Linked DNA regions of Homo sapiens. The protein of the gene in region 1 purifies or fractionates together with the protein of each later gene. This does not show direct contact. Each region holds a gene or a part of one and is shown on either strand. Other genes may lie near its edges.

Region 1 (7,027 bases):
GTGTTAGCAGCATTGGTGTCTCCTGGGCCCCTCTCCACCGCCTGCGAGGGCCGCCTTGCTGTGTCCTCAGATGGCCTTTTCTCTGCACGTGCGCATGCCTGTGTCTCTTCGCCTTCCTATACTGTCATATTGGAATAGCCCGCTCTAATGGCCTTGTTTTAACTTGGTCACCTTTAAAGACCTTATCTCCAAATGTGGTTACATTCTGAGGTACTGGAAACCCAACTTGAACTGGGGGACAGGAGGATGAGGACACATTTGGGCTCACAACACCTTGCTACACACTTTAGAATATTAGTGGGCACCCATTCGCGAGTGTTCTGCCTCCCCTGCTTGAATGTAATCTCCCTGGTGAAAGGCCTGTTTTAAGATTCAGTGGGAGGAGCCAAGATGGCCAAATAGGAACAGCTCTGGTCTACAGCTCCCAGCGTGAGCGATGCAGAAGATGGGTGATTTCTGCATTTCCATCTGAGGTACTGGGTTCATCTCACTAGGGAGTGCCAGACAGTGGGCGCAGGTCAGTGGGTGCGCGCACCCTGCGCGAGCCGAAGCGGGGCGAGGCATTGCCTCACTTGGGAAGCACAAGGGGTCAGGGAGTTCCCTTTCCGAGTCAAAGAAAGGGGTGACGGATGGCATCTGGAAAATCGGGTCACTCCCACCCAAATACTGCGCTTTTCCGACGGGCTTAAAAAACGGCGGACCACGAGATTATAACCCGCACCTGGCTGGGAGGGTCCTACGCCCACGGAGTCTCGCTGATTGCTAGCACAGCGGTCTGAGATCAAACTGCAAGGCGGCAGCGAGGCTGGGGGAGGGGCGCCCGCCATTGCCCAGGCTTGCTTAGGTAAACAAAGCAGCAGGGAAGCTCGAACTGGGTGGAGCCCACCACAGCTCAAGGAGGCCTGCCTGCCTCTGTAAGCTCCACCTCTGGGGGCAGGGCACAGACAAACAAAAAGACAGCAGTAACCTCTGCAGACTTAAATGTCCCTGTCAGCTTTGAAGAGAGCAGTGGTTCTCCCAGCACGCAGCTGGAGATCTGAGAACGGGCAGACTGCCTCCTCAAGTGGGTCCCTGACCCCTGACCCCCGAGCAGCCTAACTGGGAGGCACCCCCCAGCAGGAGCACACTGACACCTCACACGGCAGGGTATTCCAACAGACCTGCAGCTGAGGGTCCTGTCTGTTAGAAGGAAAACTAACAAACAGAAAGGACATCCACACCAAAAACCCATCTGTACATCACCGTCATCAAAGACCAAAAGTAGATAAAACCACAAAGATGGGGAAAAAACAGAACAGAAAAACTGGAAACTCTAAAAAGCAGAGCGCCTCTCCTCTTCCAAAGGAACGCAGCTCCTCACCAGCAATGGAACAAAGCTGGATGGAGAATGACTTTGACGAGCTGAGAGAAGAAGGCTTCAGACGATCAAATTACTCTGAGCTACGGGAGGACATTCAAACCAAAGGCAAAGAAGTTGAAAACTTTGAAAAAAATTTAGAAGAATGTATAACTAGAATAACCAATACAGAGAAGTGCTTAAAGGAGCTGATGGAGCTGAAAACCAAGGCTCGAGAACTACGTGAAGAATGCAGAAGCCTCAGGAGCCAAAGCAATCAACTGGAAGAAAGGGTATCAGCAATGGAAGATGAAATTAATGAAATGAAGCAAGAAGGGAAGTTTAGAGAAAAAAGAATAAAAAGAAATGAGCAAAGCCTCCAAGAAATATGGGACTATGTGAAAAGACCAAATCTACATCTGATTTGTGTACCTGAAAGTGATGGGGAGAATGGAACCAAGTTGGAAAACACTCTGCAGGATATTATCCAGGAGAACTTCCCCAATCTAGCAAGGCAGGCCAACGTTCAGATTCAGGAAATACAGAGAACGCCACAAAGATACCCCTCGAGAAGAGCAACTCCAAGACACATAATTGTCAGATTCACCAAAGTTGAAATGAAGGAAAAAATGTTAAGGGCAGCCAGAGAGAAAGGTCGGGTTACCCTCAAAGGGAAGCCCATCAGACTAACAGTGGATCTCTCGGCAGAAACCCTACAAGCCAGAAGAGAGTGGGGGCCAATATTCAACATTCTTAAAGAAAAGAATTTTCAACCCAGAATTTCATATCCAGCCAAACTAAGCTTCATAAGTGAAGGAGAAATAAAATACTTTACAGACAAGCAAATGCTGAGAGATTTTGTCACCACCAGGCCTGTCCTAAAAGAGCTCCTGAAGGAAGCGCTAAACAGGGAAAGGAACAACCGGTACCACCCGCTGCAAAATCATGCCAAAGTATAAAGACCATCGAGACTAGGAAGAAACTGCATCAACTAACGAGCAAAATCACCAGCTAACATCATAATGACAGGATCAAATTCACACATAACAATATTAACTTTAAATGTAAATGGACTAAATGCTCCAGTTAAAAGACACAGACTGGCAAATTGGATAAAGAGTCAAGACCCATCAGTGTGCTGTATTCAGGAAACCCATCTCACGTGCAGAGACACACATAGGCTCAAAATAAAAGGATGGAGGAAGATCTACCAAGCAAATGGAAAACAAAAAAAGGCAGGGGTTGCAATCCTAGTCTCTGATAAAACAGACTTTAAACCAACAAAGATCAAAAGAGACAAAGAAGGCCATTACATAATGGTAAAGGGATCAATTCAACAAGAAGAGCTAACTATCCTAAATATATATGCACCCACTACAGGAGCACCCAGATTCATAAAGCAAGTCCTGAGTGACCTACAAAGAGACTTAGACTCCCACACATTAATAATGGGAGACTTTAACACCCCACTGTCAACATTAGACAGATCAACGAGACAGAAAGTCAACAAGGATACCCAGGAATTGAACTCAGCTCTGCACCAAGCGGACCTAATAGACATCTACGGAACTCTCCACCCCAAATCAACAGAATATACATTTTTTTCAGCACCACACAACACCTATTCCAAAATTGACCACATACTTGGAAGAAAAGCTGTCCTCAGCAAATGTAAAAGAACAGAAATTATAATAAACTATCTCTCAGACCACAGTGCAATCAAACTAGAACTCAGGATTAAGAATCTCACTCAAAACTGCTCAACTACATGGAAACTGAACAACCTGCTCCTGAATGACTACTGGGTACATAACGAAATGAAGGCAGAAATAAAGATGTTCTTTGAAACCAACGAGAACAAAGACACAACATACCAGAATCTCTGGGATGCATTCAAAGCAGTGTGTAGAGGGAAATTTATAGCACTAAATGCCCACAAGAGAAAGCAGGAAAGATCCAAAATTGACACCCTAACATCACAATTAAAAGAACTAGAAAAGCAAGAGCAAACACATTCAAAAGCTAGCAGAAGGCAAGAAATAACCAAAATCAGAGCAGAACTGAAGAAAATAGAGACACAAAAAACCCTTCAAAAAATCAATGAATCCAGGAGCTGGTTTTTTGAAAGGATCAACAAAATTGATAGACCACTAGCAAGACTAATAAAGAAAAAAAGAGAGAAGAATCAAATAGACGCAATAAAAAATGATAAGGGGGATATCACCACCGATCCCACAGAAATACAAACTACCATCAGAGAATACTACAAACACCTCTACGCAAATAAACTAGAAAATCTAGAAGAAATGGATACATTCCTCGACACATACACTCTCCCAAGACTAAACCAGGAAGGAATTGAATCTCTGAATAGACCAATAACAGGATCTGAAATTGTGGCAATAATCAATAGCTTACCAACTAAAAAGAGTCCAGGACCAGACGGATTCACAGCTGAATTCTACCAGAGGTACAAGGAGGAACTGGTACCATTCCTTCTGAAACTATTCCAATCAATAGAAAAAGAGGGAATCCTCCCTAACTCATTTTATGAGGCCAGCATCATTCTGATACCAAAGCCAGGCAGAGACACAACAAAAAAAGAGAATTTTAGACCAATATCCTTCATGAACATTGATGCAAAAATCCTCAATAAAATACTGGCAAAACGAATCCAGCAGCACATCAAAAAGCTTATCCACCATGATCAAGTGGGCTTCATCCCTGGGATGCAAGGCTGGTTCAATATACGCAAATCAATAAATGTAATCCAGCATATAAACAGAGCCAAAGACAAAAACCACATGATTATCTCAATAGATGCAGAAAAAGCCTTTGACAAAATTCAACAACCCTTCATGCTAAAAACTCTCAATAAATTAGGTATTGATGGGACTTATTTCAAAATAATAAGAGCTATCAATGACAAACCCACAGCCAATATCATACTGAATGGGCAAAAACTGGAAGCATTCCCTTTGAAAACTGGCACAAGACAGGGATGCCCTCTCTCACCACTCCTATTCAACCCAGTGTTGGAAGTTCTGGCCAGGGCAATTAGGCAGGAGAAGGAAATAAAGGGTATTCAATTAGGAAAAGAGGAAGTCAAATTGTCCCTGTTTGCAGATGACATGATTGTATATCTAGAAAACCCCATTGTCTCAGCCCAAAATCTCCTTAAGCTGATAAGCAACTTCAGCAAAGTCTCAGGATACAAAATCAATGTACAAAAATCACAAGCATTCTTATACACCAACAACAGACAAACAGAGAGCCAAATCATGAGTGAACTCCCATTCACAATTGCTTCAAAGAGAATAAAATACCTAGGAATCCCACTTACAAGGGATGTGAAGGACCTCTTCAAGGAGAACTACAAACCACTGGTCAACGAAATAAAAGAGGATACAAACAAATGGAAGAACATTCCATGCTCATGGGTAGAAGAATCAATATCATGAAAATGGCCATACTGCCCAAGGTAATTTACAGATTCAATGCCATCCCCATCAAGCTACCAATGCCTTTCTTCACAGAATTGGAAAAAACTACTTTAAAGTTCATATGGAATCAAAAAAGAGCCCGTATCGCCAAGTCAATCCTAAGCCAAAAGAACAAAGCTGGAGGCATCACACTACCTGACTTCAAACTATACTACAAGGCTACAGTAACCAAAACAGCATGGTACTGGTACCAAAACAGAGATATCGATCAATGGAACAAAACAGAGCCCTCAGAAATAACGCCGCATATCTACAACTATCTGATCTTTGACAAACCTGAGAAAAACAAGCAATGGGGAAAGGATTCCCTATTTAATAAATGGTGCTGGGAAAACTGGCTAGCCATATGGAGAAAGCTGAAACTGGATCCCTTCCTTACACCTTATACAAAAATCAATTCAAGATGGATTAAAGACTTAAACGTTAGACCTAAAACCATAAAAACCCTAGAAGAAAACCTAGGCATTGCCATTCAGGACATAGGCATGGGCAAGGACTTCATGTCTAAAACACCAAAAGCAATGGCAACCAAAGCCAAAATTGACAAATGGGATCTAATTAAACTGAAGAGCTTCTGCACAGCAAAAGAAACTACCATCAGAGTGAACAGGCAACCTACAAAATGGGAGAAAATTTTCGCAACCTACTCATCTGACAAAGGGCTAATATCCAGAATCTACGATGAACTCAAACAAATTTACAAGAAAAAAACAAACAACCCCATCAAAAAGTGGGCGAAGGACATGAACAGACACTTCTCAAAAGAAGACATTTATGCGGCCAAAAAACACATGAAAAAATGCTCATCATCACTGGCCATCAGAGAAATGCAAATCAAAACCACAATGAGATACCATCTCACACCAGTTAGAATGGCAATCATTAAAAACTCAGGAAACAACAGGTGCTGGAGAGGATGTGGAGAAATAGGAACACTTTTACACTGTTGGTGGGACTGTAAACTAGTTCAACCATTGTGGAAGTCAGTGTGGCAATTCCTCAGGGATCTAGAACTGGAAATACCATTTGACCCAGCCATCCCATTACTGGGTATATATCCAAAGGACTATAAATCATGCTGCTATAAAAACACATGCACACGTATGTTTATTGCGGCATTATTCACAATAGCAAAGACTTGGAACCAACCCAAATGTCCAACAATGATAGACTGGATTAAGAAAATGTGGCACATATACACCATGGAATACTATGCAGCCATAAAAAATGATGAGTTCATGTCCTTTGTAGGGACATGGATGAAATTGGAAATCATCATTCTCAGTAAACTATCGCAAGAACAAAAAACCAAACACCGCATATTCTCACTCATAGGTGGGAATTGAACAATGAGAACACATGGACACAGGAAGGGGAACATCACACTCTGGGGACTGTTGTGGGGTGGGGGGAGGCGGGAGGGATAGCATTGGGAGATATACCTAATGCTAGATGACGAGTTAGTGGGTGCAGCGCACCAGCATGGCACATGTATACATATGTAACTAACCTGCACAATGTGCACATGTACCCTAAAACTTAAAGTATAATAATAAAAAAAAAAAGAAAAAAGATTCAATGTTCCTGGCATTCAATTGTTTGATTCATCTTCATGATCATGATTGGCATTTTGGTTGCTTTTGTCCTGATATAAACATGTTTTGAGGCAAATAAATAATCAGCCATGGTGGCTTCATGGCAGCAACTGGGCTAGATGGTTTCAAGGTTGCTCACAAATAGGCCTGTTGATTCCCCATCCCCATCCACTGTGAAATTCTCTGTCTCAAGGGAGTTTCCGCTATTTGCATACTTTCTACACGAAGGCCTCCTAGGAGGGTCCAGCCCTAACTTTAAAATTACCTGTGCAAATAGCAAAGACTTTGAACCAACCCAAATGCCCATCAATGATAGACTGGATAAAGAAAATGTGGCACATATACACCATGGAATACTATGCAGCCATAAAAAAGAATGTGTTCATGTCCTTTGCAGAGACATGGATGAAGCTAGAAGCCATCATTTTCAGCAAACTAACACAGGGACAGAAAATCAAACACCACATGTTCTCACTCATAAGTGGGAGTTGAACAATGAGAACACATGGACACAGGGAGGGGGACATCACACACTGGGCCCTGTTGGAGGATCGGGGGCACAGGGAGGGAGAGCATTAGGACAAATACCTAAC
Region 2 (7,027 bases), on another chromosome or scaffold:
CTGGCATTTTACTGGGTAGATACTGCTGAAGGAAATACAGGGTGCAGATAGTTCAGCTGGTCAATAATCCATGATTCAGGTTGGATAGGGAAAGAAGGGGGGTTAGGAGGGAATGCCTAGGTAGGTCAAAATGTAGGAATCACAGGACTGGAGAAGTCAGAAGTAGAAAAGCAGATTGCTAGGAGAGACAGGATGACAGATTTTGGTCAGAAAATGGGATATTGGAGTTTAAAGTATCAAATACAGAATAGTTCCAGATGTTCAGAGATCCAGCATGGGATTAGGTACTGAAATGGATTAGAACTAAAAGTCACTAGAATTTAGAAATTGAGAACCATGAGAGTGGATGCAATGACTTGTTGCTTGATTGAAAAATAAATTAATAATAATAAAGGACCATGAGACTAGCCTGTTATAGGGGTTATCTCCATGAACATTGAATTTTCCCAGGATCATAGCAGGAATTGGGTAGAGAAAAAGATTATGAGAAGGTGCCAGAGTCTTCAGTGAATGTCAGGAAATTACCAGGAAGTCAGCATATGACAGAGAAAAGGACAGTATGTTATCTGCATCAAAGGAAAATGTGCTTTTGTTGAAAAGTACAGAAAAAGCCAATACTACAATACTGTGCTAAGCCCCTACCTGTACTCCTCTACCCAACAGCTGCATTCCAGGCCCTGTGGTATAAAAGGTGTGAGAATGAGCATCTCCCACCAGAAATCAGACAGGTTTAGTTAAAGCAGTGAGGCAGAACAAGCATCCTATGAAGAGACTGAGGATGTAGGTGAGTGGTTCTAAAATCTCAGTAGAAGGAACATTGCAAGTAGAAAGAGCCAGCAGTAAGGATGCACGTAGCAGTCTAGAAGTAGAGGTGAGACCAGCTTGGAGATGAAATGAGGAGATGTCTTCTGTTCTGTGCTGGAGAAGTACTGGTAAGTGTGGTGTGGTTGGGATTCACAGGCCTCAGCCATCCTCACTTTGGTACAAGTTATTTTGGTACAGAACTACTAGAATGTCCCAAAGGCTGTAGTACAGGAACATTTCTGAAAGGACAAAAGCTGCCATGAATATTGAGAAATTGTATGGTGCCAGGTACAGCCTGGATCTGAGCAAGACTGCTGGATGGTGTGTGGATAGATAGTGAAGGCCCAGATTTGGGAACAGATTGGATCTCAGATATCCAGAGCAGCACTGTAGAATCTAGTTGCATATAATAATGTTTTAAAAAGGGTATCTTAGGCTGGGCACGGTAGCTCCCGCTTGTAGGCCCAGGCCTTTGGGAGGCCAAGGTGGGCAGATCACTTAAGCCCAGGAGTTCAAGACCAGCCTGGGCTGCATGGCGAAACCCCATCTCTATAAAAAATAAAAAAAATAAAAAAAAAATAGCGGGCATGGTGGCATGTACCAGTAGTCCTAGCTACTCAGGAGACTGAGGAGGGTGGATTGCTTGAGCCTGGGGAAGTCAAGGCTGCAGTAAGCCATGATCATGCCACTACACTCCAGCCTGAGTGACAGAGTGAGACCTTGTCGCCAAAAAAAAAAAAAAAAAAAACAGGGCTACCTTACTCTGGAAAAAACACATGTAGCATTGGCTGAATAAAGAAATGGAGCTTCATGATTAAGGACATTTGGAATCAGAGTGCAATAAACTTTTTGTCTTGTAGCTATAACCAGAATGCATGGCTTTGAAAATCACTGCAGCAGTATATATTTAGCATCTGGTCGCTGAATAGCAGTCTCTTGTGACTGAGGATGATTTTCCATGGTTCCTTTTTGTATTCTGAAATGACTAATGGAACCATCTGGGATCAGCAGATTTTAAGTCCCTGAAGGCTGGAAAAGACTTATACTTGGCTTTATAATTCCCCACAAAGTCAGGCCCAGCACCTTGCACTTAAGTGTTTATTGAATAAAAGAGTGACTTGTGTGGAAGTTATTCATTCTGCTTTAGCTGTTTTTGTCATTCATTCCCTTTTAACTCTTGTAGTTTGTTGTGACTTTAACTTTCTTACGCTTTTTTTGTGGAGCTGCTCGATAAATATTTGACATAGGTATTATGTCATTTTATGGCTCATCCAGTGTCACACAAGTAGTAAATGGTAGAGCCAAAACTCAAAATCAATGTCAGTGGATTCTGAAGGTAGGTGCTTTCTGGTACGCTAGAATTAGTACCAGTATAAGAGGCATAGGAGTGATCTTGTTTCCTGAGCGGAAAGCTTTATTTAGCCCTGTGGTCCTACCCACTCATGCAAGGATGCTTCTCTTTCTCGTCTCACATGAGAACCCTGATGACTGAGAGATCAACAGTGTTTCCTCAGGCCCAGCTGCCCTGCCCAGCGTTCCTGCATCCCACTCTCTACAGGCACAATGTTAGTGGAGCATTGTTCCTAGAGTATTCTTCATCTTAGTTGCTTTACCCTTGCTTCATATATTTGTATGTCTCACGTTTCAGATTGCTCTCAAATATCCCTGAAGCACTTTTTTAAAAAAAATTGTGGTGAAATATACATAAAATTCATCATTTTAAACTTTTTAAACTATGATTCTGAATTAATTTAGAATACTTCTGATGTATAAAATGCTATGTAAAATACGATTTTGCTGTTGGCTTCTGTATTAGTTTTTCATTGCTGTATAACAAATTCCTGCAAACTTAGCAGTTTAAAACAGCATACCTTTGTTATCTCACAGTTTCTATGGATCAGGAGTCCAGCCACAGCTTAATTGGGTCCTCTGCTCAGGGTCTCATTGGGCTACAGGCCAGTTGTTGACTGGGTCTGTAGTCTTATCAGAAGCTTAACTGGGGAAAGATCCACTTTCAGGTTTCCTCCGCTGGCAGAATTCATTTCCTCTAAGCTGTAGGACTGAGGTCCCCATTTTCTTGCTGGCTGTCAGCCAGGGACCACATTTAGCTTCTAGGAGCTGCCTGTAGTTGGTCCCTTGCCATGTAGTTCTGTCCATGAGCCTTCTCATAACATGGCAGCTTAGTTCTTTAAAGCCAGCAAGGGAGAGAGTCAGAGAGCAAAGTTTCTGACTCTCAGGGAAGGCCTGGACCCCCTTTAAAAATATACCTGATTAAGTTAGGGCCACCCAACTCAAAATCTACTGATTTGGGACCTTAATTACATCTGCAAAAACCCCTTCACTTTTGTCATATAATCTAATCATGGGAGTGACATCTTGGCGCATTCTGTTGGTTGAAAGCAAGTCTCATAGGTCCCACTCACGCTCAAAGGGAGTGATTACACCTCCCCTTGGTGAGAATGTGGAGTTTGAATACACGGGGTGGGGGGCATTTTAGAGTCTGTGTGCTATGGTTTCCTTTTTTATCCATTTCATAGGGTTTTTTATCAGCAATTGGACACCCTTTCCCCAAAATGATTTTTAATCATGGAAGGAAAAAGAGAACTTGGAATTACCTTGAATTTGAAGAAGAAGAAAATAAACAGTTAGCAGACTCAATGGCTTCTCTGGCATATCTAGTATTTGTACAGGGCATCCATATTGATCAGCTTCCAATGGTCTTAAGGTAAGAGTTAGTGTTTGGTTTATTCATGTATTCTAAAAGGAATTTCATAAAATTCTCATTTATCTAATGTCCAATATATGCATATTAACACACTAATACATTTTAAATAAATAGTAAAGGCTATTTTTAATAAGAATGATCCCAGCTATAATCTGTTAAAGATAGCAGTAGACAAGTAATGAAAGTGGGGAGTGTTGAAATAGGTGTAAGGGAATGGTGGGGACAAGAATCAGAAGATGATAAACAGGGCTTGGTTTTGAAGCTTTTGAGACCACCCTGGAACTAGCCAGGTACCCAGGGGTATCATCATCTTTTCACTGGATTACTGCTGTAATCCTGAGTGGATTTATATATCTACTTTTACTTCCTTTTAATTTAACACATTCTCAACATACCAGAAAGCGAAGCCTTAAAAGAAGTCCCTTACTGAAAACCCTCCAGTGGCTTTTTATTGCTTTAAGAATAAAGTCTTAATGCCTTTGCATAACTTCTGAGACAAACTTGTGCCTGGTCTGGTCCCTGCTTAATTGACCTGATTCATCTCCTACCACCTTTCCTCTTGTTTACTATGCTCCAGTGACACAGACCTTCTTTTGTTTCTAGTTTAAATGTTATGAATTTTCCTATTTGGCCTTTGTATATGCTTAAAATTCTCTTTATCCTTAAATGTCACTTTCTGAAGAAAGCCTTCACTCACCACCCAATTTAGGTTGAATCCTTCTATTATAATTACCTTGACCTTGTCTTCTTTTCCCACAATGTTTATTAAAATTATTTTTAAAATATATAATTTTATAATGTAATATCTTCTGGACTTTGAGTTCTATGATAATAAGGATTGTGTATTTGTCTTATAGGCATTGGGTATTTGTGTGAGTTTGTGCATTTATATATGAATATAGCTAGGAGTACATTCGTATGTAAATGTTGAAATACTGGCTATCATTTGCATGTTCACCATGTATGAAACATTATGCTAATAACTTTATATGCATTATCTCATCCTTATAATAAGCCTGTGAAATAGAGCATTCTCTCATTTTACAGATGAAAATAACAGGCTTAGACAAGTTAATATACCACTGAAGATCTAACTACTTTGTGGCATAGGTGGGATGCAGATAGCTCTGTCTGACCCCAGAGCCTATACTCTTAAGCATCACATTCTATCACCAAAATAACTTATACAGCATATGTATATTAACTTGCTAGGGCTCCTGTAAAAAAGTGCTACCAACTGGATGGTTGAAATAACAGAAATAGTTTGTCTCATAGTTCTGGATGCTCCTTCTGAGGGTTGTGAAGGAGAATCTTCTCCATGCCTCTCTCCTGGCTTCTGGTGATTTGCTCACAATCTTTGATGGTCTTTGGCTTGTAGATGCATTATCCTGTTCTCTGCCTTCATGTTCGTATGCTGTTCTCCCTGTGTGCTTGTGTCTGTCTCCAAACTTTCCTTTTACATAAGGACAACAGTCATATTGGATTAGGGCCCACCCTAATAATCTCATTTTAAATTGATTACCTCCATAACCCTATCTCCAAATAAGGTCAAATTCTGAGGTACTAGAGGTTAGGACTCCAACATATCTTTTTTGGGGGAGATACAATTCAACCCATAACAATATGTATGTGTGTACATATCTCTGTGTGTGTGTATAATATATATATTTGTTTTGTTTCTATTTTAGCCCATTGTACCTTTTGCAGTTTAATATGGGGCACATTGAAGTCTTTTTGCAAAGGTAAGATCGTTTAGATGGTATCTCAAAATGAAATAGTAGTGTTAAAATAGTCCTTGTTAAGATCAGCGGAGACTGCCTTTTCTTTGCTAAGCTCTAATTAATTAATTGGTTATTTTATAAAACAGCGAGGCAAATAATTCACGAGAGAGACAGAAATGAGTCAAGGAGGTTTTACACCAAAGTCTGTTTTATTTTAAACTTAAGACAGTATTAAGATTTTGTCTTAAGGGCTTTTACAGTCATCTGTTTCTAAGGTTTCTTCTCTTACTCCAAAAGTTGGTAAATTAAAACACCTCTACCCCACTGCATCCTCCTCCATCTTAAGGAAGGGCAGTCAATAAAAGAAGTTCTTCCGTATTTTTCCTTCATGGACACAGTCTGTGAATTGCATCAAAAGGAAGGAGGTGTCTTGACTTCCACCTTTTATAATTTAGATTATTGACAGTGATGTCATTCAATTACAACTTTTCTCATTTGAGGTGCTAAGCAGCAGGACTTTCTATTTAAAAAAAAAAAAAAAAAGCCAGGCACGGTGGCTCACGCCTATAATCCCAGCACTTTGGGAGACCAAGGCGAGAGGATTGCTTGACCCCAGGAGTTCGAAACCAGTCTCTCTCTCTACAAAAAATAGAAAAAATTAGCCAGGAGTGGTGGCGCCTGCCCGTTGTCCCAGCTACTTGGGAGGTTGAGGTGAAAGAATCACCTGTGCCTGGGAGGTCTGGGCTGCAGTGAGCAGAGATCATGCCACTGCAGTCCAGCCTGGGCAACAGAGTAAGACCCTGTCGCAAAAGAAAAAAAAAAAAAAAAGGAAATTACAGAGTAACAGGTATACATAATTTCTAGACAGAAATTAAAGAATTTCACAGAACTATATGCTTTGTTTTCTTTCACTATAACATGTAACATGTTTAAATTATCCCCTGAGATCAGTTAGGGCTTTGCAATTATCCTCTATGAACACTAGTGACAGTTTATCAGTCCCATCTCTTACCAGGTGAAGGAAGATTTGTAACATGGCAATGTCCAAAGCTTCAGCATACAAGGCAGGAATTTCCAAGGGTCTCCTGGCACAAGTAGTTACTAATTCTGTAAATTTGCTGTATTATGTATGTTTTAATGATTTTATATTCATTACATTTAGTTTCTGTTATTCATACAGTGATAATATGTATTGTTTTGAATCTAAGTCCTAAATTCTTGAGATTTCCAAACTGCAGAGTCATTGAGTCTTTTTTTGAATAAAAAGAATTGGAAAGATTTTACAGAATAATCAACTGGAATATATAGCATTGGTTATATCAGGTTTAGTTAGTTTCTTAGCACTTGCTGTTGAAGATCTATTGTTTTGAAGTTAGGAAATAATCCCTGAGTAGATTTATTTTGGTCAGATTTAGTGGCCTTAGCCAAACCGAAAGACAGATCAAAGATGGATTAAAACTTTTGATCAAGTTCTTCAACAGAATTTCTCCTTAATGATATGCATTTTAAAAGTGTTAAAATTTCAGTTTTTGCTGTATTTTTCATAAGATGAAGTATCATTCTAAAATAGTTTACAAATTCATGATAAATTTTAATATTATTTTTCAGAACAGAAGAGTCTGTTATCTCCAAAGGATTGGTAAGATGTTTGTTCCCATTATAACTTAAATACATAGTTATGTCAACAAATAACAGCTGTTGACTTCACTATATATGTATCTGCATATATTTTAATCTGTAGGAGCTGCTGGAGAATAGTTTATTGAGAATAGAAGAC
Region 3 (7,027 bases), on another chromosome or scaffold:
AGCTACCTCCCCTTCTGACAGGGTATCAAAATGAGGCTGAGACTACTGTTTGGAATAAAAATGAAACAGAGAGTAAGTGGGAGGTCTGTGCACACAGAGTAAAACTGTTAACGGCTTGACATTTTGTTTCAGTATTCCATGAGTTATTATACTCAAAGTGATGTAAGCATCAGAGCCCCAAACGTATATTCTAATGTTCCGTTCAACAAAATGTCCTGTATTAATTAAGCACTTTCAATAATAAAAGTATCGCAATTGAAAACAAAAAGTAAACTGTACTCAAAGCTATAAAAAGAACACTTAGTTTATGTAATAATTTTATGCCCTTTTAAAAATAGCTAAAACGCCTACATTTAACAGAATTCTTTTAAATGGCCTTCCTCTGCATAAAATTAGTATGCACTATTTTTTCCAAGCAAATCATGTCTAGATAACATCTTTCAAGGAAAAAGAATCTTATAAAATTTTACCCACATGACAGAGAAGTTGTCTTTTCCTCAAAAGAATGCCAGTTCTCAACATACAAGTTTTTCTCAGCCAAGGACTTACATTGTCACATATAGTACAATTCTGAAGTACCTAAATAGGATATGTTTCACTCTGAAATCATGATTATTAAGCTTTATCTATAGAAAAAGAAGACTGGTTTGCTATACTATCCTTGAAATAAAAATGCGGATTTTGACAACAAAAATACAAATTCTAAGCAAAGATGTAAATTGTTGTATACTCACACATCCACAAGTAGTACATAAGCTTTACTGTCTTTTGGAATTCTACAGGAATGTCTACAGAAAAATCCTGATAGAAACAAGGTCCGACAGGAAAATTGCTAGGAAGAGGTGGCCAATTATTTTTTCTACCTGTAAATTTTTTTTAGAAAAAGAAAAGGTTATTTATATTATAACAAATGTGATATTATTTTTTGTTTCATAATAAAGAAAAACTCTATTATGTTAACAAAAGTTCAGAAAAACTGTAGAACTATATCTTTGTATTCCTAGAACTCTGAAAGACAAGCTTTAGATTTTTAAAAAATTTTCTCAGAATATCATCACCTTAGAGCACATTAGATAGTAAAATAATTTTCCAGTGTCATATCATACCATGTTTAGCAGGAACCATTTATGTACAGAAAAAACAAGAAACAAAAAGAAAGCACATATCCAGTGCTTCTACCCTAAAACAGATTTATTTCACAGTCCAAAGAGTCTGGCTGGCATGAAAGGGCCATCCAGTTTTTAAACTTCAATTTTCTCCTCAGCATCTTAAATCTTCAAATATAATTCTGTTATAATTCCTATCTCAAGTGGAGAAAGACTAGCTTCTAATTTTTTCAAGTTTTCTGTTAAGTCCAAGATTAAACCAATACCAAAGAATCAAATTTAGAATACTCAAAATCTGGGAAAAAATAATATCCAAAAGATACATGTACGAAAACCCTACAACAAAGAAAACATGAAACAGTCATGATAAGGAAGCTGAAGAATTATAGAACCTTTAAAAATGCAGAGAAAAACAAATTCAAACTGTAAAGGGAAAAAAATGTGTCTACATAAAGAAACCAGATTAAAAATAAGACTTGAGAAATGGTGGGGGAAATAAAAAATTAAAATAAAGAAGTCAAAACATGAAAATAGCGGGTAAAAACAGCACCTAAGGCCATTTCCCGATTTTAGATGTTATATCCCACAGTTTTTAAAAATTCAATTTTACCTACTTTTCCCAGACCAGGGTAATTTTTATAGAAAGAACAATAACCTATTTCTGATTCTCCCCAATGAGTCTCCTGTGTTCCATTTATCATACTATTCAAATTTCATATAGTTCATTTCTCATACCAATCTCATACTATTTGAGAAGCGGCAGTGAATACTCGTAAAGAAGAGAGGCTCTGGAACCAGAAGTGGCTAGCCACTTACTGGCAAGGTCGCCTTGGGCAACTTACTCTCTCCTCCGAGCCTTAGTTTCCATATCTGTAAAATGAGAATAAAAACTCTATCACCCCTCACAGGATTGTATTGATGATTTAAGTATGAGTTAAGAGGGGAAAAGTACTAAAATGTGCTAACATACTGCAGTCTAATTGTTAATTTCCTACTCTTTGTTACTGTCTTTACTAACATAACTCTCATAGAAATAGTTTGTATTTGCCAGTGCTAAAGAAATAGGATGGATTTTAGTTACAGGTACTTCAGAAACATTGGTCCCAGTTCAACTTTTAGTTTCTCCTTCTATAGATGCTACCTCTGATGCTGCAAGCAAGAAAATGACCCAGGATAAATGTGTTCTCATGAGGCCCTAGACTTACACATTCTAAGTTAAAAAGAAATAGTTCTGTATATTGTTATTGTTCTAGCTTTGCATTGCATCACTATCCCAGACATCCTAACAATGACTTATCTAGCTCTTTTATCTCTTCTTACTCAGAGACTGCTAGCTTTCCCTAAGAGACTCCTTTGAAGTGCTTTGGCAGGCACAAACTTAATAGAATTCACTGCAACAATTCACCACTTATTTCTTTGGCATCATATGAATACCTTAGGCTTCCAATTTTTCTAACATGATTTGACAAAATACTTGCGAGGACTGGGGCAGATAATCTGAAATTAACCTGAATAAATCAGGTAAAAGTCAAATGTAGGGTACATGCAAATGTACTCATAAAGAGTCCACAGAACCAAGGAGGGCCTAACTGCAGAATCAAAGGCTCCTGGCCTCAGAGTAAGCAAAAATTATCATATTCACATTCATTTTCTGTGTGATGAGGCTAACACTGTTCTAAGCTATCAACAAAAGACTATGCAAATCAGCCAAGATTAGAAGGCTACAGAGTATCAAACAGGCAATCTGCTGTGTCTGATCTCCTTGTTAGAACAGGAAAACAGGGTAGGGTTTTATCCACAGGCCAAATGACCTAGGAGCTAGTATAGACATAATGTAAAGTATTTAAAAGTTATTTTTATTTCAAATTTCTTTGGATACTACCATGTTGACTGAGGTTTTGCATTTCTCGTTCCCGACGATCTAATTCTGCGGCTTTTCTTTCTAGTTCTTCCTGGCGCTTAAGAAGTTCAGCTTGGGCCAATGCATGTTCCTAAATAAAAAATATCAATATGTGAATAGACTGTCAGAAGTATAAAATACTTTAACATTTATATGCTAACTCCTACTTCTCTACTATGAGAGAAACCTAATTCAAACACACTTCCAAAGTACAGGAATTTACTGAAGATCATAGTTACAGAAAATATTATGAGGATATTTGGTCCATTTGGTCTTTGGGTTCCAGAAACTCTCAGTGGGAATGTTGGGTCCATTAGGAGAGGAAAACTTCTCTTAGTAAAAGTAGTCACAATCTTTAGGTAATCTGGAAAATGAAATTAAGATGACCTCTATGCCTAAATGAGTGAAGAACAGAGGCAATGGGAACAGTTGAGGAAAATGAACAATAGAAAAAAGGGCAACTGAATTGGCTCCTATTAATCAGATTAAATGATATATAAGGCCACCAATGCAAGAATATTTTCTAATATCTTAAATGTTATAGGAGAATGAGGTCAAAAGATGTGATTAAGAAATTCTTTATAACTCAATTTGCCCTTACATGCTATCAGGCATCTTATTAATCTCCTTTCTTCTCAGATTTTTGCCATCTTCTACCTCCTAACACTGTTATTTTACCATTGCAACGCTCTCCCAATAATATCTATTATTCCATCATTTTTACCTTAATGGTAGTGTGCATTAAAAAGTGGGACCAAAGGCAATAAAAATTTATCCACTGAGATGATACATAAATTCAATAATTCCTAATAATGGAATAAAGCAAATGGTATAAGCTGACAAAAAGAGGAATGAGTATTTGAAGGGTGACAAGACAGCAAATCCAGACTTGAAAGTGAGTTAAAAATTAAGCAACAGAAATGTAACCATATAAAGATTTATTTTGCTCTGAAAGCAAATGTTATTGATATTATAATGGCCAATATGAATTTATACAACTAACATGAACTAACCTTTGCAATCTGTGTATAAGCTGGATGTTCCTCTGTTGGTTTCATTATTGCTGGTTGTGTATTGGGTACATTAGGCATCTTCACACCGCCTGGTGGAGGCTAGGAGGATTAAGAGAAGGAAAATTATGTAACACAGAGATCCAACTTTAACTTCTTTCAAAAAGTATAACACCAATAAAATGAAAAATCCCAAAATCTGCATCTCTTCATTCCCTGCTCTCTCATAGTCAAGTGTGTGGCAAAGAGCTGCTTAAATTCTCCATCTCCATTTTCTCCAACTCATTCATTTTTCAACTCTACAATCAGACTGCTACTTATAACACTATATGACAAACACTCTCCTCCAGGATACCGTATGTTAATAGAGGCCAGGCATGGTGGCTCATGCCTGTAATCCCAGCACTTTGGGAGGCCAAGGCGTGTAGATCACCTAAGTCAGGAGTTCAAGACCAGCCTGGCCAATATGGTGAAACCCCGTCTCTACTAAAAATACAAAAATTAGCCGGGTGTGGTGGCGGGCACCTGTAATCCCAGCTACTTGGGAGGCTGAGGCAGGAGAATCACTTGAACCGGGGAGGTGGAGGCTGCAGTGAGCCAAGACTGTACCACTGCACTCCAGCCTGGGCAACAGAGCAAGACTCCATCTCAAAAAAAAAAAAAAAGAACTTTTGAGTTTAATAGTAAAATACAGATAGAACCAGACAAAAGAACTACACCAAGGTTTACTGCCAACTCTTCCCTCTTGAGAAAGCTACATGCCAGTGCTCTGAAGAGTATACAGGAAAGTTCTTGGTAGAACCCCACTAAATTTAAAAGAGTAAAAGGGAAGGCGTAAGGAGAGAGAAAATAAATTACCCAACTTCCACTTTGCCAGTGAGGATCAGTAGTGTCTGAAAGCTGCAAGATCAGGAAGTAGACATCTACAAGTCCATCAATGGGGGATTGGTTAAATTACTGTATATACATACAATGCAGCCATGAGAATAAATTAGCGATAGAAGAATGTCTTTTAAAATACTAAATAAAATAAAGCAAGCTGGCCGGGCGCAGTGTCCTATGCTTGTGATCCCAGTACTTTGGGAGGCCGAGGCAAGTGGATCACAAAGTCAGGAGTTCGAGACCAGCCTGGCCAATATGGTGAAACCCCATCTCTCCTAAAAATACAAAAATTAGCCAGGTGTGGCGGCGGGCGCCTGCAGTCCCAGCTACTTGGGAGGCTGAGGCAGAAGAATCGCTTGAACCCGGGAGGCGGAGGTTGCAGTGAGCTAAGATCGCACCACTGCACTCCAGCCTGGGAGACAGAGCAAGACTCCATCTCAAAAAATAATAATAATAATAAAATAAAAATTAAATTAAAAAATAAAGCAAGCTACAGAACAGTCTGTATATGACCTTTTTTTCAACAGACACAGATTTATACATGCCCCCATAAAATATCTGGGAAGTCTCGGCCACCTGATATCAGACGGACTTGCACCTGTTGTTTTATATGCCTCTGTATTATTTGCTTCCCTCGACACATGCACCATATACTACTTTAATAAAAATATATTTTTAAAGTACTCTTTAGAATGACCATAAGAAAAAAACAAAAAACAAGGATGGGAACATGAAAAGAACAATAGAAGCAAAAACAGTAACAGAAAAGAAAAGAAGAAAGGAAAGAAAGAGAAGAGGGAGGGAAGGGGGAGGTCATAAATAAGAAAAATATAAAAAAGAAAGAAGCTGCACAAGGACGTTCAAGGATCTTAAGAACTATTAAAACCAGAAGACACCACCAATATATAGCAGGATTTTACTCTGACACAGCTAACAGCAGCCCTGAAAAGGAAGCCACGCATAACCAAAGATATAACTGTAGTTCAGCTGATTCTAAAATGCATATACAAAAGGCAAGAACCGGCTGGGTGCAGAGGCTCACACTTGTAATCCCAGCACTTTGGGAGGCCAAGGTGGGCAGATCGCCTGAGCTCAGGAGTTCGAGACCACCCTGGGCAACATGGTGAAACCTCGTCTCTACTAAAATACAAAAAATTAGACAGGCATGGTGGTGTGCACCTGTAGTCCCAGCTACTGGAGAGGCTGAGGCATGAGAATCGCTTGAGCCTGGGAGGCAGAGGTTGCAGTGAGCCCAGATTATGCCACTGCACTCCAACTTGGGCTACAGAGTGAGAGTCTATCTCAAAAAAAAAAAAAAGGCAGGAACTAAAAACAGGTCAAACCATTTTGAAGAAAAACAAAGTAGGAAGACCTATGATATCAAGGCTTATTATAGAACCACAGTAATTAAGAGTGTAATACAGATGCAAGGACAGAGAAGTGTACCAATAAACAAAACAGACACAGAAACAAACCCACACAAATGCAGAAACTTGATATCTAACAGAGGTGTCACTACAAAACAGTGAAGAAACAATGTGTTAATCAATAAACGGTGCCTGGATAACTGGTTACTCATATAGGAAAAAAAAACATTTCTTACTTCGCATCATATACAAAGATTAATTCGAGGTAAATTCATGATCTAAAACTGAAAAAGCAAAACTTAAACACTTTCAGGGAAAAATACATGTGAATATTTTTATGAATATTTCTTGAGCTTCTAGAATATGAACTCTAGAAATACTGTGTATTTTGTTTATGACCTATCCCAAGTACCCAAAATAGTCCCTGAAACAGTAGATGCTCAGTAAGTATCTGTCAAATTAAGAATGGAAAACACACACCACACAAAATTGACGAATTTAATTACACTGAAATTTACAAAAAGTAAAAAGTCAAATCATGGACTAGGAAAAGATAGTTGTAATGCATATAACAGAAAATTGCTACCCAGAATATATAAAGAATTGTTACAAATCCATGAAAATACAAACTAATCGAAAAACTAGCAAAAGATCTGAACAAGCAATAGAAAGAGGTCAATAAACATGTGAAAAGAGGTGTAACAGCACTAGTAATCAAGAAGTGCAAAAACAATCATATATCATTTCAAAACCATGAGATAG

What was found. Proteins that work in one complex are often made in the same cells at the same time.
Region 2: the proteins of ENPP6 (region 1) and GLMN purify together in Homo sapiens (affinity purification with mass spectrometry; 3 studies listed by BioGRID and IntAct, with this or other methods). This does not show direct contact.
Region 3: the proteins of ENPP6 (region 1) and SCAMP1 purify together in Homo sapiens (affinity purification with mass spectrometry; 4 studies listed by BioGRID and IntAct, with this or other methods). This does not show direct contact.

Annotation. Positions count from the first base shown.
Region 1 is NC_000004.12:184,207,851-184,214,877, forward strand, and holds part of ENPP6 (glycerophosphocholine cholinephosphodiesterase ENPP6 precursor), read right to left. Parts: intron 1-7,027. UniProt on the Homo sapiens protein: Choline-specific glycerophosphodiesterase that hydrolyzes glycerophosphocholine (GPC) and lysophosphatidylcholine (LPC) and contributes to supplying choline to the cells.
Region 2 is NC_000001.11:92,267,967-92,274,993, reverse strand, and holds part of GLMN (glomulin), read left to right. Parts: intron 1-3,341; coding exon 3,342-3,529; intron 3,530-5,217; coding exon 5,218-5,271; intron 5,272-6,858; coding exon 6,859-6,889; intron 6,890-6,991; coding exon 6,992-7,027.
Region 3 is NC_000005.10:78,412,611-78,419,637, reverse strand, and holds part of SCAMP1 (secretory carrier-associated membrane protein 1), read right to left. Parts: intron 4,119-7,027; coding exon 4,020-4,118; intron 3,098-4,019; coding exon 2,989-3,097; intron 864-2,988; coding exon 735-863; intron 1-734. UniProt on the Homo sapiens protein: Functions in post-Golgi recycling pathways. Acts as a recycling carrier to the cell surface.